Homo sapiens: one gene and its partners. The protein of the gene in region 4 purifies or fractionates together with the protein of the main gene of each other region. This does not show direct contact. Each region holds a gene or a part of one and is shown on either strand. Other genes may lie near its edges.

Region 1 (2,780 bases), about 26 Mb from region 4:
GGGGTGGGGGGCCCTAATGGAGAGGTGTGGGTTTGGCAAGAAAGAAGCAACACAGATGTCGTCCCCAAAATGCCAGTTCAAGACACCTTCTCCCTGCCCCCCTGGTAGTAACAGTCAGGGCCTGGTCTGTGCTCAGGTACTGGGTCCCAGTCTGGGACTCTGCTGCTGAAGTTGCCACAGTAGAGGTCCCTGGCTTAGTCCTTATCTCCCTACGGGGCTTGCCTTGGTTTTCAGTCTTCTCTCTCTTTCTCTCTTTTTTTTTTTTTTGCCACATTCTGCCCTTCCCTGACCCCATTGTAATAACCAACTCCATATCCAAAGGGAGGTGGTGCTCTCAGCCATTGTAGAAGATGGTGGCTTTAACCTGACTGTCTAAAAATTCCCAGCTAAGCCTTTTCCTCTACTCTCTTCCTTGTTCTGAATCATTTCTTCTTCTCAGGCCAAAGTAGCCATGGTAAGGAGGCTTCATGGGGCAGACCCTGAAAGATCAAAACTGCATTTGCAAAGCCCTCCCCTGTCCCAGGACAAAGCTGAGACTGACGGGTGATGTTGCTCATAGGCTCCAGCTCTGCATAAGACCTTGGCTTGGAGACCTCCCTCTCAGTCAACAGCTGAACTCTGAGCTTGTGCCCAGAAATTACCCCAAGACCACAGGAACCCTTCAAGAAGCTCCCATCACAAGCTTGGCATTGCTCTCTGCCACACGTGGGCTTCCTCAGGCTTGTCTGCCACAAGCTACTTCTCTGAGCTCAGAAAGTGCCCCTTGATGAGGGAAAATGTCCCACTGCACTGCGAATTTCTCAGTTCCATTTTACCTCCCAGTCCTCCTTCTAAACCAGTTAATAAATTCATTCCACAAGTATTTACTGATTACCTGCTTGTGCCAGGGACTATTCTCAGGCTGAAGAAGGTGGGAGGGGAGGGCGGAACCTGAGGAGCCACCTGAGCCAGCTTTATATTTCAACCATGGCTGGCCCATCTGAGAGCATCTCCCCACTCTCGCCAACCTATCGGGGCATAGCCCAGGGATGCCCCCAGGCGGCCCAGGTTAGATGCGTCCCTTTGGCTTGTCAGTGATGACATACACCTTAGCTGCTTAGCTGGTGCTGGCCTGAGGCAGGGCAGGAAATCAGAATAGCATTTGCTTCTCTGGGCAAATGGGAAGTTCAGCGGGGCAGCAGAATCAGTGGCATTCCCCCTGGTGCAGGCCGGTGGGTCCACTCCAACTCCCCCTGAGTGTAGCAGCACACTTTCCATACACCAGGTTCTTTCTACAATCCTGGTGGAAAAGCCACAGAACCTTCTTCCTGCCCTTCTTGAGAGTTCCCCCTCTTTCTGGGTCAAGAGCTGGAGTGGTGGCTCCATCCTCTCTGGGCCACTTCGGTCTAGGAACTCATCTTTGCAGGAACCAGGAGTCCTGAGCACACTGAACACACCTCAGAGGGAGGATCCTTGTTGTGGATTTTGCACCTGGCTTTGGGGCAGGGGTGAAGTGACCAGGCTTAGCTTGTGGAGTTTATGGGCCACCAGGGTTTGGGGAAATCACCATCCCGCGGATGCTGTGACCTCCCTTCTACGGAGATGCAGGCAGTGCCACGAGGGAGGAGGGGACCTGCAAAGCTAGAATCTAGGGCACTGTTTCCTCCCCATCCTTCTCTTTGTAGAGAATAGAGACGTTTGTCTTGTCTGTCTTCAACCTACTTTTCCTTTTCTCTTTTTTGTTTCTCATCCTCTCTGTGCCACCTCTCCACCCAGGAGGCCATGTAGCATAGTGGAAAAAGTCCCTGAGGGCGGTTAGGAGTTCTGGGTGACCATCCTGGCTCAGCTCCTAACTCACCATGTGACATCAGGCTATCCCCATTCCCCCTCTTGGGCCTCAGTTTCCCGACTTGCAAAATAAGCAGAAAGAACCAGATGCTCTCCAGGGTCTTTTTCTACTTTGCTATCTCATGGGTCTTCATTTTCTCTTATTTTGTTTTCTCTGGATCTTTTCCATCTGAGGGTACAGGAAGTACCAGGACCTGTTTCAGTTTTTGAATCCTGCAAGCACATTCCAAGACTGGCCTGAAACTGCATGAGCAACATCACTCGAAATAATTTTTTTTTTCAAAAGCACCTTAACAACCAATTGCGATGCTGTCCTGTTCCTTTTTACTCACACCCTTCTCTCCTTTCTCGTCCCCATGCTCCCCCACCTCAGTGCTCCGTGCTGTATGCGTGTGCTCTCTGTTCTTGTATACTCAATATAAGTGAAATAAATGTGTTTGATGCTGAACCATACTTCCTTGGCACCTCTCCTCTCTCTCTCTCTCTCTCTCTCTCTCTCTCTCTCTCTCACTGTCTCTCTCTGACTTTGGCCACTGGTACAAGTTGGCACTGTGGGAGGGGCTAAAACTGAAGTGGAGACATCCCAACTTAGAACATGTTTATGCAACAAATATTTGGAACTCAAGGTGGTCCAGGCCTTGGGTGACTCTCCAGGCACAACACAAACAAGACAAAAGTCCCTGCCCTTCATGAACCCACAGGCTAGTGGAGGAAACAGATGCCAACACAGGCAAACAGTCCGTTACAGAGCACTCAGCACTAGGAAGGAAATACACCGGGAGAAGGGAAGGAGGGTCACTGAAGGAGACCACTTTAAATACAGTGGCCAGGTAAGGCCTCCCTGAGGAGGCGATCTGTGAGCTGAATGAAAAGAAGGATCAATCAACAAAGGCGAGGAACTTTGGTGCACATTCTAGGAGAGGGAACAGTAAGCATACAGGCCCCAGGACGTG
Region 2 (5,530 bases), on a different chromosome or scaffold from region 4:
AACAAGCGTACATGAAGTCTTGAACTACAATTTTGTCATTAGGAACTATGGTTCTTTTCTTTCTTTTTTTTTTTTTTTCTGGAGGCAGAGTGTCACTCTGTCATCCATGCTGGCAGTGGCGGTGGCATGATCTCGGCTCACTGTAATCTCCGCCTCCCGGCTTCAAGTGATTCTGGTGCCTCAGCCTCCCAAGTGACTGGGATTCCAGGCACGTGCCATCGTGCCCTGCTAATTTTCGTATTTTTAGTAGAGACAGGATTTCACCATGTTGGCCAGGCTGGTCTCGAACTCTTGGTCTTACTCAAGTGATCCACCTGCCTTGGCCTCAAGTGCTGGGATTACAGGCCTGAGCCACTTGCCCTGGCCAAGGAACTGTGGTTCTTAATCCTTCTGGTGCATTCAAGTTGAATGAGGGAGTTTATAAACAGTTGCCCATCCTTGGGCTCCACCTGGGCTGAATTGGCATTGACCCTTTAGAACAGGGGTTGGCAGACTGTTTCTGTAAAGGACCAGATAGTAAACATTTTAGGCTTTGCCAAACCTACATTGTCTGCCAACTCTGTCAGTGTAGTGCAAAAGCAGCCATAGACGATACTGAAACTAATGGGCAGGCTGTGCTCCAGTAAAAACTTTATTTACAAAAACAAGCAGTGGGCCTGATTTGGCCTGTGGGCCACAGTTTGGTGACCCATCTTCTAGAATAGCAAATGTCCTCTGTGTCCATTAGTAATACTTATCCTCTGCTAATCAGATTCTTGCTTCGTTTTTAATATATCTTGGGTGCTCTTTTTTTTTTTTTTTTTTTTTTTTTCCTGAGATGGAGTCTTGCTTTGTCGCCCAGGCTGAAGTGCTGTGGCGTGATTTTGGCTCAATGTAACCTCTGCCTCCTGGGTTCAAGCAATTCTCCTGCCTCAGCCTCCCTAGTAGCTGGGACTACAGGTGCGTGCCACCATGCCCGGCTAGTTTTTGTGTTTTTAGTAGAGACGGGGTTTCACCATGTTGGCCAGGCTGGTCTTGACCTCCTGACCTCGTGATCCACCCACCTCGGCCTCCTGAAGTGGTGGGATTACAGACATGAGCAACTGCACCCGGCCTGGGTGTTCTTTCTCAATTACAAAGGTAATACAATGCTTTTTAAAAATCTCATACATTTTGTCAAGTATGAAATAGAAAATAGGTGTCTCAGCTGGGCACGATGGCTTACACCTGTAATCCCAGTACTTTGGGAGGCTGAGGCGGGTGGATCACTTGAGGTCAGGAGTTCGAAACCAGCGTGGCCAACATGGTGAAACCCCATCTCCACTAAAAATACAAAAATTAGCCAGACATGGTGGCAGGTGCCTGTAATCTCAGCTACTAGGGAGGCTGAGGCAGGAGAATCACTTGAACCTGGGAGGCGGAGGTTGCAGTGAGCCGAGATCCCACTGCGGCACTCCAGCCTGGGCGACAGAGGAGACTCCGTCTCAAAAATAAATAAATAAATAAATAAATAAATAAATAAATAAATAAATAAAATGGTGCTTCAAGGAGTACTATAGATGAGAGAGCTAAGATTGTAGAACACTCTAGAGATAGTTGTGGGAAGAGAGCTCAGTTACTCTTCGTATATTTATGTGTATGTCACTTTCTTTTTTTGTTGTCCAACTCCCAAGGTCGCATCCTGAGTCTCAGCTGGCATCCCTCTGGTACCCACATTGCAGCTGGTTCCATAGACTACATTAGTGTGTTTGATGTCAAATCAGGTGATTGTTTTTTTCAGTTCATTTGGGGTGTGGGTTTTGTCAGATTCACATTTCTGAGTTTTCAAAAGCTTGAGCCTTTGTCATGGTTTCATGACCTTTATGGCCTAACATGTCATTAATCTTCTGAGATGTCCACAATTAATTTTACTCCTTTCTTGGATTACTACCACTGCTTTTAGGGGAATCTTGGATCTTCAGTAAGATATAGTATTTTTCATTCATCGTAATAAGAATTCACAATAAAATACTCTGAACTAGTACATTCGTGTACTATAAACAGTAGAATTACCTATTTATAGATCCCAGTCCTTGGTAAAAATGGGCTTCTGTCATTGAGGAACATAAGATTTTTGTAGCATAATTGGTGAAACATGAGATCAGAAAAGCAGAGAACCATGATATTTTCTGTTCTTGGCCTGGAAAATTGGCTTCATAGAATCCTTCATTGATAGGGTTGATCTCAACTTGTTAGGTGGACATGTCTGTATTTCCGTCTGAGATGCAGAGATAAAACAGGTTGGCTGGGCGCGGTGGCTCATGCCTGTAATCCCAGCACTTTGGGAGGCCGAGGTGGGTGGATCACCTGAGGTCGGGAGTTCAAGACCAGCCTGACCAACATGGAGAAACCCTGTCTCTACTAAAAATACAAAATTAGCCGGGGTGGTGGTGCATGCCTGTATTCCCATCAACTCAGGAAGCTGAGGCAGGAGAATCGCCCCATTGCACTCCAGCCTGACAACAAGAGTGAAACTGCGTCTCAAAAAAAAAAAATCCCTTAAGCTTATTACAAAAAAGAGGGAGTCCTTCTATATCTCTCTCACTCTCCTCGAGGCAACCACTTGTGACCCTTAGCTGATTCTTTTGGTATCTATCACTGCAGATCCTAGCATGCTTTTTATGCTACATTTTGATTTTTCAGCTTTAGACCATTTTTTACTGACTTCTGCAACTTGCCCCTCTTTTTCTACCGTCTGCCACAGGCATCCACACTTCCTCCCGATCCTCCCAGTATGGTTATATTATAACTTTGTTCAAATTAGTAATTGATGTTTTCATTATTATGACTATGTATATACTACTCACATAGTAAATTTTCTTTCTTTTCCGGTATACTTATTGTTTAATAGTGTCTCTGTCTCTCTGTCTTACTGATACATTCCCACATTTTTCCAGTTGCATAAATTAGGTTCAAGTCCATCTGATTTTCTTTCTCCACTTTTATCTTTGTGAATAAGTCCCTCCCGGTGCCTTCTGACCCACTCCCATCTGGCTTAGCCACTCTGGGCCTGCTGCACAGCTGTGAGATCTGAAACTCTGATTGATTTTTCCATTGTTCTCGGGATCTCCTTTGCTTCTCTATCGGATAGGATCTCCCATTTCTGTGTTATTCACTTTCTTGGTTTACCCTTTGGTGGATCCTGAGTAAGAGTGCATGAGAAAGAATTCTAGGTTGGAAATTCTTTTCCCTTAGAATTCTGAAGCCCTGGCTCCGCTGTCTTCCAGCTCCTCGTATTATTAGCAAGTAAGCTGCCATTCTGAGAGTTATCCCTTTGTGTAGGACCTGTTTTATTTTTTTTTCCCCCAGGAGCTTTTAGGATGTTTTATCCTTACTGTTATGAAATGTAATAATTAGGTTTCTTGGTATGTGGATCAATTAATTGTTCTGGACACCTGGTAGGTTCTTCTAATCCAATACCCACGTCCTTCAGTTCTGGGGGGAAATTCTTTTACTCTTATTTTTCATTTCTTTGTCTTTTTACTATGCTTTCTGGGAGAGTTTGTCTTTTTTATCTTTGAATCCTCTATTGAGTTTTTCATTTTTGACATTTCCAGAGTTCTTTTTTTTCGTGAATCTTCTTTTTTACAGCATTCTCTTTATGTTTCATTATACAGAAACTCTTCTCTTTCTTTTTTTATTTTATTTTATTTTATTATTATTATACTTTAAGTTTTAGGGTACATGTGCACAATGTGCAGGTTAGTTACATATGTATACATGTGCCATGCTGGTGTGCTGCACCCATTAACTCGTCATTTAGCGTTAGGTATATCTCCTAATGCTATCCCTCCCCCCTCCCCTCACCCCGAAACTCTTCTCTAAGGCTATTAATAATTGTCAAGTGTTTTTCACTCTGCCTGTTTCTTCCCTGTTATTCATTTATTTGTTTCTGTTAGTCCGTTTGGCCTCTGCCTTTCATGTTAAAGGCTTTCCTCATGTCTGGTGATCATCTCATCACTGCATCATGTGGCTTACTGAGCTTGGGTTTCACTGAAGAATGATCTGGCTGGACTGCTTATTTGGGGTAGCCCTGAAGCCAGAATCTTCAGATCTTTTCTTTTGTGTCAGTTATGTTCCTCAGAAATGGTTTTTCATTCTCCTGCCTGGTGAGTATTGGCCTGGCTATCAGCATTCTAAGGGGAAAAAAAAGAATGGTGTTCTCAACATTCAGTGAGAAATGTTCACTTAATCCTGGTTTTCATATACTGCTTCTGCCTGATAGCCCTCCTCAGACAACGTCTCCAGTATTCTGCTGACGTGCATTTTGGGAGCTTCCCACCTTCTTAGTCAGGGCATGGCTATCTGAGGGGTCTACCAGCTGTTAACGGATCCCTCTTTGAAGCCCCACTTACTCCTTTTCTAGAATATCTGGGGTCCCCAATTCCTGAGTCCAAGGATTCCATAGTATAAATCAGGTGGCTTCTTGGCTTTCCTCTCTGCCGACCTGGGACTTAGTTTCAGGGCTCTGCTAAGTCAGTGCCACTACTTGTCTGCTTTCCAGTTCCCCAAATTTTGTCACTGATCTCTCCCTTTCCTGTGGGATTTTGGAAAAGAGCAGAGTGTAATGTGTGTGTGCAGTTGACCAGCTTTAAGTGAATGTCCCAAATGTCTCTTTCCATTTCACCCCACCAAAGGGGTTTCTGTTCTCATTCTCTTCCCTCCCTTCCTCCCTCCCTTGCACCTTCTATCCCTTTCCTGTTAGGCTCTCCCAACACCCCTTCTCTTCAGGTAACCATTTTGGAGTTCCGAGATCAGGTTCACCAGAACTACCATTTATAGGCTGACTGTTCAGTCAGCTCACCTACCATATCATGCTTACCGCAGGCGGGTTTGTTATGTTGTTTCGTAGAGATGAGGTCTCACTTCGTTGCCTAGGCTGGCCTTAAACTCCAGGGCTCAAGCAGTCCTTCCACTTTGGCCGCAGGCAGATTTTGAAGACAGAGAAATAAGTACCATTTGAAGGTGTGCTTTTCTGATTTTTCAGGCAGCGCTGTTCATAAGATGATTGTGGACAGGCAGTATATGGGCGTGTCTAAGCGGAAGTGCATCGTGTGGGGTGTCGCCTTCTTGTCCGATGGCACTATCATAAGTGTGGACTCTGCTGGGAAGGTGCAGTTCTGGGACTCAGCCACTGGGACGCTTGTGAAGAGCCATCTCATCGCTAATGCTGACGTGCAGTCCATTGCTGTAGCTGACGTGAGTACAGTCCCTGTTTAGAGTGGTTGATGTACACCCTTGTGGGGTGAGTTGAGAAAGCAGCCTTAGTGACGTGCCATGAACACTGGTTCCTGATCCTGATGTTGTACTGGAGGAAGATGAGTTTAGGAAAATGCATCTGAAAACCCACATTGTTTCCATAGTACCTAACAATTGGTTAGAGAATACAGGATACTCCAAGAGATTAGTTAGCAGGGAGATTTTCTTTAGACACTGCTCACTTCCAGTTCGTCTTGTTTGATTGTAGATAGGGCACAGCAGCCTAGAAGAATCTGGAGAAGCGCTATGTTTA
Region 3 (5,530 bases), on a different chromosome or scaffold from region 4:
GCTCCGACCCAGCCCTTGGTGGTGTTCTTGTCCTGCTTGTGTGTGGTTACACCTCTCTGTGTAGAAGCAGGCTGGAAACTTGAGAGCTAGCATGCCCCTAGAGGAAGCCAGCCCCCAACCTCCCCCCACGCGTCCCCCCACCCACCCTCAGTGCTGCGGGGGCTTTCTGGCACACCTGGGCTGAATGTCACAACGTGTTTCAGTGAAACTCAGTCAGGGAGACAGGGTGTGGGGAGGACCTGAGAGGAGCAGGCCAATACTGCCCTGAGAGTTGACATCTCAGGTGGAGACCTAAAAAGGTACCAAATTTAGGACCATCACCCAGATGAAGTGAGGAACCAGTAATTCATTAAGTAAGGAGTCTGATGTTGTATTTAGACGCCATGTCTAGAGAGTGACAGAGTTTGGGTTCTAATGTCAGACTTCCTGGGTTCAGGTCCTGGTTCTTTTTTTTTTTTTTTTTTTTTTTGACAAGGTCTCACACTGTCACCCAGGCTGGAGTGCAGTGGCATGAACATGGTGGCTCACTGCAGCCTCCACTTCCCAGGCTCAAGTGATTCTCCCACCTCTGCCTTCTGAGTAGCTGGGACTACAGGCACGTGCCACCATGCCTGGCTAATTTTTAAATTTTCCATAGAGACTGGGTCTCCCTATGTTGCCCAGGCTGGTCCCTAATACCTGGGCTCAAGTGGTCCTCCCACCTCAGCCTCCCGAAGCGCCAAATTACTGCCGTGAGCCACCATACCCGGCAGGTCCTGGTTCTAACACATGTTGGCTTTGTGTCCTTGAACAAGTTGTCCGGTCTTAGACTTTCCTTATCTACCAAAAGGTGATGTTAATATTGTTGTATTACTCGGGCACAGGGCCTGGTACATGGCTAGAACTCAGTGAGTGTCATTGTCAACATCATCTTTCTCATTGTTATGTCATCTACCAGGTGTTTAAGGGACAGTGGAGATCATGCCATTTCAGACCTGGTGGAAGCAACCACTAATATAAACACCTCCCATGTATAGGAAGGCTGGAGTGGGAATCCTTAACCCCGCCCCCTGCTCAGGTCAATCCCCCACCCACCGCCCCCACTGTCCCTCCCAGTCTTCCTTCCCAGAGGAGAAGGCTGGGTATGAGGAAACTGCTGTCTTTTCACTGGATCAGACGTAAATATTAACTGGACCTCTCTTTAGATTCTTTGCTCAATAATGAATTGTTTTCAGGTAGGTGTCTTACAGGTCCCTTCTCACTGCTTAGCTCCTCTGTGGGCCTCTTACTGACCCTTCCCGCTCCTAACTTTGGTCCCAGCTGGTTTGAGTAGTTGTAGTAAGAGCAAATGGTGATTGCATTTTTTTCTTAAGCACATCGTTTAACATATTTTGAACAGGCTGATATGTGTTCAGAAAGGATATTAGAAGGTACCATTTTTCTGGGTAACAGGAAAAAACGAAGATCTATCATTGAAAGTGGATTTGTTTCCTCCACCAGATAAGAAAGGACCCAGCAGAGCAGAAATCAAATTTGTAGCAGATACTTCGTGTGATTGAGAACTAAACATCCCCTCTTTTCCCCATACTTCTTGTGCCAGTTTTAGTTATAGGAAACTTGGAAAATATCTTCATTCCTCCACTTACCCACCCACTTGCTGAAGTTTTATTGTTCACTGGAAGTTTAGTACTAGTTTCTATTTGTTTTAATTTTTCTTCCATGTGAATTCCTGCCATGGTAATTCTTGATGAACTTGCTCAGGGCAAGGCAGCTTGGCCACACAGCAGTGTGTGGTTCAGAGATAGTAAAGCTTGTTTGGCTGGTGTGTTGTAATTTTCATAATGCACTAGCTGCTACCAAGCATGAGGAAATGTCTTCTGTTGATAATCCTCTGATTTTTGTCCAGACCAATGGATTTAACTTCCTATATATTTTTATGGCCCTGCAAATGGAAAGTTTTTGTTTTTGGGTTTTTTAAGTTTCCTATTTGAAGAGCTTGAGAAATTTTCTAAAAAGGAAGCATTAGTTAGAAGAAACCAAATGTGACATACCAATGCAAGTTGCTTCAGATCATCTAATCTTATTTCATTTGTTAATAATGCTGTAAGATGTACCTCTGAGAAAATGCTGTGTATCAAATGATTACGAGTTTTGTTCCGATAAATGGCCATCTGTTGAGGACCTGCTATGTTGGTGTTGGCACAGACTATACTCAAGTGCTTAATAAATGAATGAGGTGAGTCCCTGTCCCCAAGGGGCTCAGCTGTTCCTTATCTTGTGGGTGTTAACATTGGTAAAGATGAAACAATTTCAATACAGTGTTATATCAGCACAGATAGAAGTTGAATAAACTCCCAGCAGCTGTACAGTGGAAAGACCGATTAACACAACAGGACATTTCAAAAATACATTCTCGTTTGACCAAAGTTGTATACACATTCTGCTTCTGGCTTTTATTTTATATGAGGACATGATTGTAGTCAATGTGAGTTAGAATTGAAATCTGCACCATTGGGTGTCTCTCCAGTTAAGCATGAATCTAATGGTGCTTTTGGGCAAACTGTTGTATTTCCGGAGACCTTAGTTTTTCTCATCTTGTAAAACTGATTTTCTGTTTTTGGTCATGAAAAACTTCATGGTAGAATTCCTTAGATAAAGGCTTTATGAAAATCTGCACCTCTTAATTGGTTAGCAACCACTTCATTACCTAACTACCTTGTTTAAAACTGTATTGAACTTATGACATGTTAGCATTTTAGCGTCTGTAGAACAGCCTCAGGATAATTTTTGACATCAGTTTGAGTGCCAGATTTTAGTTCTTTTAAATAAATGAGGTAGGCTGGGCATGGTGGCTCACTGGTAATACCAGTACTTTGGGAGGCCGAGGCAAGAGGATTCTTTGAGCCCAGGAATTCAAGATCAGCCTAGGCAACATAGTGAGACCCAATCTCTACCAAAAAGAAACAAACAAAATCATGTAAATAAAAATGTATCATATAAATAAATGAAGTTATCTGGAAATAAAGGGAAAGTAAACATTACAATTTTGAAACAAAACTAGAGTATTTTTATAGTTTTATCTTGATAAGTCAACTACTTACCTAAGGCAAGTATTTTGAGAATGGTTGGAAACAACTTTTTAATTATTAAAAAATATGTCCATCTTGTGATTTGGGGGAACAGATATCTTGCCTTTTCCTCTGTTACTGTTATTCATGCTTTCCATTCTCAAAGATAGTTGGCAATTATAAGTTTAGTTAATATATCAGCTAGGTGTAAAGTCATATGAGGGTCTACTCTGATAGTTGCTGGGATTAGAAAATACAGTCTGAGGTGAGGTGGATTAATGTTTAAAGAAAAGAAATTCTGTTTTTCTGGCCCCACTGGTCTCATATGCAGAGGTTTATATTAGGTCGGGACCTGACAATTAGTTCTGCGGATTTTTCTGTTTTTCTTGGACTCCTCAGAGAAAACAAAGTTGAATGCTGGTATTTAGTTAGAATGAAAGATTATGATACCTTTTCTGTATAACAACTTTATGTGCTTCAGTTCACTCATACCATAAAATCTGTTTATTTATTCTTCACTAAGTGGAATTTTGGTATGTTTGGGTTATAATTGAAAGGCATTTTCAATTTTGATTCTCTTAGCAATTAAGAGAAATTTCTCTAGCTCAGATGTCTTTTTTTTCCCCCTCCTGGTCTTTCTAGTTAGTGTGAATAGATTGGGGTTCCATGATGGTATTAAATTCTGTGGTATCATCAGAAAGGTATTTGGTAACCACCTATCTCTATCTCTAGCTTACCCATGAAGCCACCCAAAGCTAACTAACTGGAAGAGATGTAAAAGATGGTGTCTTTTAGTCTAGTTAACTTTTCTGGTCTAATTATTTTAATGCAGCTTCTTATAACAAACCTTCAGTTGTGGTGGAACCAAATGCTGATCTAAGGGTTTGAAAGGCCTTGGTGGTCTTTAAGAGAAAAGGCCACCCAAAAATCAATCAGCAAAATCTTTTTTTTTTTTTTTTTTTTTTTTGAGATAGAGTTTTGTTCTTGTTGCCCAGGCTGGAGTGCGATGGCTTCACTGCAACCTCTGCCTCCTGGATTCAAGTGATTCTCCTGCCTCAATCTCCTGAGCAGCTGGGATTACAGTTGCCTGCTACCATGCCTGGCTAATTTTGCATTTTTAGTAGAGATAGGGTTTCACCATGTTGGCCAGGCTGGTCTCAAACTCCTGACCTCAGGTGATCCGCCCGCCTCAGCCTCTCAAAGTGCTAGGATTATAGGTGTGAACCACTGTGCCCTGCCACGAAAACATTCTTGAGACGAACTCTGTGTTAGCGAACAACCCTAACAGTAAAGGGTTTTTGGAATATTTCTCTTCTGGGACTATGGCTTGAAGTTTGAGGGATGCTGTAAGTGCTGTACATGGAAGTTTACCCCAATTCTCAGAATGATTCTTTGCAATGGATAGTTTTAAGATCATGGTGATGGGACTCTGTGGTCGCCAAAGCTTCACTTTACCCTCATAGGGCCAACCTTCCTTTTCTTCCTCAAGTTCCAATGTCACTTTTAGAACCCTCAGATACTTTTTAAATTAGCTCAGACTTTGCCTTTTTTTCTGAGTGATGGTGAATTTTAGACATACAGAAATGTGGAATAATAGAGTGAATACTCGTGTACTCCCCACCCAGTGAAGAAATAAAATACTATATATACATTTAAAACCACCTATGAGTCCTTCCTGATCTCATTGCCTCTCCCCACAGAGTGACCACTATTCTGCATTTAGTGTTTATTGTATATTTTTATATTTTTACTAGATTTGTATGCATTCATAAACTAGATATAGTGTATTTTTTCATGTTTTAAACATGCTTTATAATATTAAACATTCCTCTCAGTTTGCTTTTATTGTTTAAATTGTGATTTTGCTATTTATCCATTGAGAGACACATAATCCTAGTTTATTTTAACTGCTGTATAACATTCCATTATATAAATATGCTATGACACATTCATTTTAATGTTGTAAGCAGGTTTACAAATTTGTGAGTGTGCTGTTTTAATGCAATGAACAGTTGTGAACTCATCTCCCTGTGTATAGTATACACAGTTGACAGTTGACAGTTTCTCTGTGGTGTAAACCTGGAAGGGAATTGCTGGGTCAAAGGAATTTGATCGTCTTCTTTAATAAGTTGCCTGATTGCTCTCCAAAGAAGTTATGCCAATTTGCATTCCAACCAAGCAGCGTTTGGGGGTTCCAGTTGCTTCACATGTTTGCAGATATTTGATATTGCTAGACTTGATGTTTTGCCAGTCTGATGGGTGTGACATTGTGCCTTTGTGGTTTAAAATTTGCACTTTTCCTGTTTGCTAGGGGAGGTTGAACATCTTTTCATGTGTTTGTTATGCTGGTTTGTTTTCAACTCAGGGGCCTGAGAACAGTTTTCCAGGTCTTGAAAGTCAGGATTGTAGTTTTGGTTTTGTCTGAAAACAGGGACAATGAAGAAGGGACAGTGAAGAGGAAAATCAAGGAGACCAAAGCAAAA
Region 4 (5,530 bases):
TTTTCATTGCAAATGTTGGAAACTTAGCTAACTAGCTTATACCAAAATAAGGTGACGGGGGAGAAGATGTATTTACCCACAAAGTGGTAGATGGCTTCTGGCACCATGGAATCCATGTTGCAACTAATGCCATCAATCTCAGTCTCTCTCCATCCTCCAAGCATGGACTCTCTCTGTGGCACCCAAGAGAGCTACCTGCGCCCCAGCCCCACACCATACTGCTTAACAACTTCAGCAGAATAGTCTTCCCTCATAGTTCTGGATGATGGGCTGCTGATTGGTTGATGTCTTTTATGCACATATGCTTGAGCTTCAGTGTACCTGGAAAGGGATGGTTCCCTCAAATGGGCCAAGCCTAGGCCACAGACGCTTTCCTCTGGCAGGGGACAGAAGGGACAGCCCCATCCAAACGACCCGGATAGGATTCCCTATGTGATAATGGAGTTCTTTTCTCATAAGAAATGAAGAAACAACTGGTCATACCTAGCATGGCCTGCTACTCAATCCAAAAGATTTTCCGTACAAGGAGGTAAAATTACATACTAGAATGCCCATCACAATTTAACAGGGAGATTGTTTATGAAGATTTGCAGTTTCCTTGCAGCCATTTAACTACATCTTTTCCACTTAAGATGACATAGGAATCACTCATCACATCTCTGATATGTTACAGAGCCCAGTAGATTTGTTTATAATGAACACCTCAAAATTATATGTTTTTATAACACCTTAAAACTATTAAAACCTGCATGATCTCTCTATTTTGCTGGTGTGAAACCATGTAGATAGATGGTGGGAACTCAAACCCTTACCATGGCAATTTAGTTAACCTCAGCTTCTTCATGGTAAAATGGTAAAGTGTGATGAGGAGGGAAGGTTAAATGGATAATAAGAAAACCACCTGGCAAACTATTTTTAATTATGATGGAAGATTTGTTTGAACTGTTTTAACTTTATGCCCACTCAATATTTTTGATATTTATGTATAAATCCTACTTTCTGAACATTTCTTAAAAAACAATCTCTGTTCTTAAGGAAGTTCCAAAATATTGTTATTTAATCAAAATGAAGATGATAAAATTAACTTTGAGTTATTTTTCTTTTTTGTTGCTTCAGCTTTAGTTTTGGTCCAGAAAGCATTTTCAAGGAGCTGGTCAAGCATGGCTTTAGCAGATAAGAGACTTGAGAACTTACAGATCTACAAAGTTCTTCAATGTGTGCGGAACAAAGACAAGAAGCAGATAGAGAAGCTGACCAAGCTTGGATACCCTGAACTAATCAATTATACAGAACCCATTAATGGACTTAGTGCTTTGCACTTAGCCTCAGTTTCCAATGATATTGATATGGTCAGCTTTCTCCTTGACCTTGGTGCTCACCCTGATGTGCAAGACCGAATGGGCTGTACTCCCACAATGAGGGCTGCAGAACTGGGCCATGAATTGTCAATGGAAATATTAGCAAAGGCAAAGGCTGATATGACTATAGTTGATAATGAAGGAAAAGGTAAAAATCCCGACATCCTCTCCAGCAGATTGCAATTCATTTTGTAGCCAGAAAGCAATAACATGGACTCTTTTTGTTTTCCAACTTTAGAAGTGAATTACTTATGGTTTTAAGGGAAAGGCTAAATTCTCACTCCTATACCTAAACCTACTGTCTCCTCATACTTTGAAAATGAGATAGCTATATCTTAGGGAAATCATTTATGAGAGCTTGCTCATATACTTAGATTAATTTGTGTTTGGTGGTTTCTTTTAAATGAGGAGAATTTTGAACATTATACACACTGATTATTCATTATAAATTATAAACTCTTCTTTAAAACAAAGATGAAGTAGAGCATTTCTTATTCTTTTTTACATTTTAGAATTTCAGGCAGTACTACACCTAGGACTCCAAAAGGATTTTGACCCCCTCAATAGCAGTCTGATGTAGGAAGGACTTGCACTTGGAAACTTGAAAGGACTAAAGTCAATTCTGGCATAAACTCCAACTTTCTAGGATCATTTAAAAATGTATTTGGAAATACAACTTCAAACTTTAGACATGACCTTTCAACAATGATTCAGATCAAACAACTGCACTTCCACACCGTTAATCCCATCATCTCAAGACCATGGTCTGAGGACTTCTTGCCCAAATAACTTAAGGTTCAGGCAAGAATTGACACAGCCTCATAAAAATAACTGAGATAATTACCAATAAGCTTAATGTAAACTGATAGGTTTGAGCAGTTGTCCTGAGTTTCTGCAGATACAAGGCCATTAACATCAGCTCTGCAATCGAGAAATGAATCTCATTTGATAATGTGAATATTTACTGACAAGAGCAAAATCTACTTTTCTAACTCTCTCCAGACTTGGTGTTTGATATGATTACTTGCTTAGAACAAAAGAGGACAAAGAAAAGGGATAATTACATATTTAATTGTACCACGTAAGAAAATAAACTTCAGATGCATTCAGGGGCCAGATGTACTTTGAAATGCTAAATCCTGAAAAAACGGTATCCTCTCAAAGCTCTATAGTATACCATTTCCCAAAGTGTGTTCCATGGACCACTGAATTGCCAGGATGTTGAGAAGTACTACAGGCAAAATTGGTTCCACGGTCGCATTCATTAGAGACACATTTTAGGCATTTATCTTTCACATTGTTGGCTCAAAAATGGTGACATTTTCCATATTTATTTGACCACAAAATAATTTTTTTTAATGACATCTTATATGCCTGGAGTTTTGTGGACTAACCTTTGGGAAACACTATAATAGAGAAACGTTTAACTTACTGAGTTTGAAACAGATACAAATCACAAAGAAAAAAGAAATTCTATAGTGTAACAATGTAAAAGTGTAAATTTTTTTTAAAAAATCAAGGTAAAATTGGAAACAAGGTCAAGTAAATACTTGCAGCAAATGCAACAGGCATATGGCTAAAGGAAACAAATCTCATGGGCAGAACTGAAACTATAAAAGGAAACAAATGTAAAATCTTGTTTCACACATAAGCTTGTTAGGATGGCTGCCTGCAGCCCTCACTCTGCATAACCCAAGGTAGTGCCCATTGTACAGAGTACATTGTCTCTTCCCACATCAACAAGGCTCACTCAGCTTGCACATCCCTCAGTTTGGCTGCCAGTGGCCAAAGTGCTTTGCTTATTCCACAGTACCCTCTCTGTCATTGACATCCTATTTTCTGGTGACTCATGTTTGACTCACTGTACATCGTTCCTAAAGGATAAGCAAACATTTAAATGGCTAAGTGGGTCTTTAGGATGTGAGACATGCCCTAGGCCTAAGCGGCACTTTCTCTTGGAACAGTTTTACAGAATATGGAGAAGGTAAAGCTCTAAGCCAATACATTCTTTCTTGTATGTTGTCCTAGGGAATTAATTACAATGTGGAATCATTCTCCTTAAAAGTTAAGCTATAATAGTTCCTTATAGCACCCATTCCCATTCCATTGGTTTTTGCATTTACAGGCATGTGTACTCAGTCCTCAATGCCGTATGCCAGTTCTATGATAAGGTACAATATTTTTCAAACTGTTTTCCCTTCAATTTAGGAATGCTGATTCGTGTTCTTTGTGGCTTAAGGAGTCAGCCCAGATACACTTTAACTGTGTGTTGCACATGCCATCATTATGAAATATTCATTTCATAAGTGGCTCTGGGCCTTTTGTAATGAATTCAGCCTCCTCGGGTATTATGCTTAGGTTGTTTTGCTGTTGCTGTTGTTGTTTTGCTCTGTTCCTGCCTTCTATGTCTTGCTCTTTCTTTGACTTTCTCTTTTCAATAATAACCTTGACAATCTTTTCTTTTTTTTTTTAACTGTTCTGAGTAACCCTACTTTAGGTACATCAGTTTATATAAAATATATTTAGGTTTTGATTTTCATATACATTTTATTTTTTATTTTAATGGTGGAATTTATCCAATTTATAGTTATCTAGATTTCCCATAGGGTTGGTTTCAGAAACATCATTTATTTTATATTGTGAAGGCAAAATATATCTAATATATAAAATACATGTGAAAGTATTGTCATATATGGTCCATAGATTTGTTTTACTTTGCTGTATATGTGTGTTTTTCTTTATATGCTTGTAAGTGTATTTTCTAAAATTGATGGGCTTTTTAGTTATTTTAGTTTTTTTATTTTTTTTTAGTTATTTTAATGGTTAACTTGATACTTCATATGCCCTTAAACCTGTTTATTGAGTTAGCATCTTAAACAGTATTCATTGATTCTTTACTCTGTTTAGTAAGATTAGTACAATAGTATAAATTAGATAAGATTAGTACAATAACCCTTCCTCTTACCTCTGCTACTTCCCTTCTACCACTCAATTTTATACTCAATTATAATTACTTAGTTCTTTCAATGATTCCCTTTTAAATAATAAGTACCTTGTACTTTATTTCCTTACCTGCTTTACATAATATCTCAGTCTTAGCCCTAAAAGATGAGAAGATCAAATACTTATACTATTTCTCCTTCCTTCCCTCAAATTTTTGATAAATTATATTATTTTTACATTATTACAAATTGCAATATATTTTTCTCTATCTAAAATTGCTAAGGTGACTTAGCTTTGGTTCTGTGGCTAAAGAGATTCAGTATTTATGACTGTTCTTTTAGTCACATATTCTCTATTGATCTCTTGGAAAACTCACTTTTGCCATCAAGTAGTTTAAGTCACTTCTTTGGGCTTGTATCCCTGATTACTTATATCCTTAAGACTATACATGTCTGTTGTTTTTACATGAACAAAGTCTTGATTGGGTATAAAAGTTTCCTGTTTTTTTTCCCCAAGTTATAGTGTAGAGATCCTTTGATTATACTGTAGCATTGAATGTTGTTGTGATAAATTTTTGAGGGCAGCTGGACTTTTCCCCTTCATGGATTAGTTGAATTTTTGCCTGGATTCTTATGAGACACTTTCTTTGCCTAGCTTTACCTAGGCATGCCTTGTTGACTGTTCTTAATCAACTTTTCCTAAGACCCAACGTACCCTTTTAATCTTAAGATTCAGGTCTATCTTTGCACTTTCATTTTAGAACAAGTTATATTTAGTTTCTTTGCTATCATGGAAATGAATTAGCCAGTAATTTTCACTGGTATATCTTTTCTAGTATGTATCCTTTTTGCGTGGCTTTCAGTATCAGTTTCCTTTTTCCTTGCAGTATTTTTTTTTAATAGGTTGCATAGTGGTTTCTTTTTTGGTTATTCTTTGAATGGAGTCCCTTTTTTGGAATGAACTCGTTACAAAGTCAGTTTGGAGTCTGATTGTTATTTACCTAGGACTTTCTTAGTAACACTCTGCCCTGGGTTTATAACAGTAACCCTGATGTGTAGTATGCTTTTGACATGGATTATATTGAAGGCCTGTATGTTACAGGTCCTGGGTGTAGGGATTTAGCATGTTCCTTTCTCCAACGGAACAAAATGATTTGCTAAAATGGCAGAGGCACTTGCCATCTAATTAGCCACTTGGCATCTAATTCACCTCTTTACTGCTATACCGAC

The links.
Region 1: the proteins of ANKEF1 (region 4) and EPB41L1 purify together in Homo sapiens (affinity purification with mass spectrometry; one large-scale study listed by BioGRID and IntAct). This does not show direct contact.
Region 2: the proteins of ANKEF1 (region 4) and UTP4 purify together in Homo sapiens (affinity purification with mass spectrometry; one large-scale study listed by BioGRID and IntAct). This does not show direct contact.
Region 3: the proteins of ANKEF1 (region 4) and USP46 purify together in Homo sapiens (affinity purification with mass spectrometry; one large-scale study listed by BioGRID and IntAct). This does not show direct contact.

Annotation. Positions count from the first base shown.
Region 1 is NC_000020.11:36,230,520-36,233,299, forward strand, and holds the end of EPB41L1 (band 4.1-like protein 1), read left to right. Parts: 3' UTR 1-2,280; downstream 2,281-2,780. UniProt on the Homo sapiens protein: May function to confer stability and plasticity to neuronal membrane via multiple interactions, including the spectrin-actin-based cytoskeleton, integral membrane channels and membrane-associated guanylate kinases.
Region 2 is NC_000016.10:69,138,173-69,143,702, forward strand, and holds part of UTP4 (U3 small nucleolar RNA-associated protein 4 homolog), read left to right. Parts: intron 1-1,652; coding exon 1,653-1,742; intron 1,743-3,970; exon of another isoform or gene 3,971-4,018; coding exon of another isoform or gene 4,019-4,127; intron 4,128-5,005; coding exon 5,006-5,217; intron 5,218-5,530. UniProt on the Homo sapiens protein: Ribosome biogenesis factor. Involved in nucleolar processing of pre-18S ribosomal RNA. Part of the small subunit (SSU) processome, first precursor of the small eukaryotic ribosomal subunit.
Region 3 is NC_000004.12:52,651,980-52,657,509, reverse strand, and holds part of USP46 (ubiquitin carboxyl-terminal hydrolase 46), read left to right. Parts: intron 1-970; exon of another isoform or gene 971-1,199; coding exon of another isoform or gene 1,200-1,214; intron 1,215-5,530. UniProt on the Homo sapiens protein: Deubiquitinating enzyme that plays a role in behavior, possibly by regulating GABA action. May act by mediating the deubiquitination of GAD1/GAD67.
Region 4 is NC_000020.11:10,037,142-10,042,671, forward strand, and holds part of ANKEF1 (ankyrin repeat and EF-hand domain-containing protein 1), read left to right. Parts: intron 1-1,116; 5' UTR 1,117-1,160; coding exon 1,161-1,506; exon of another isoform or gene 1,507-3,529; intron 3,530-5,530.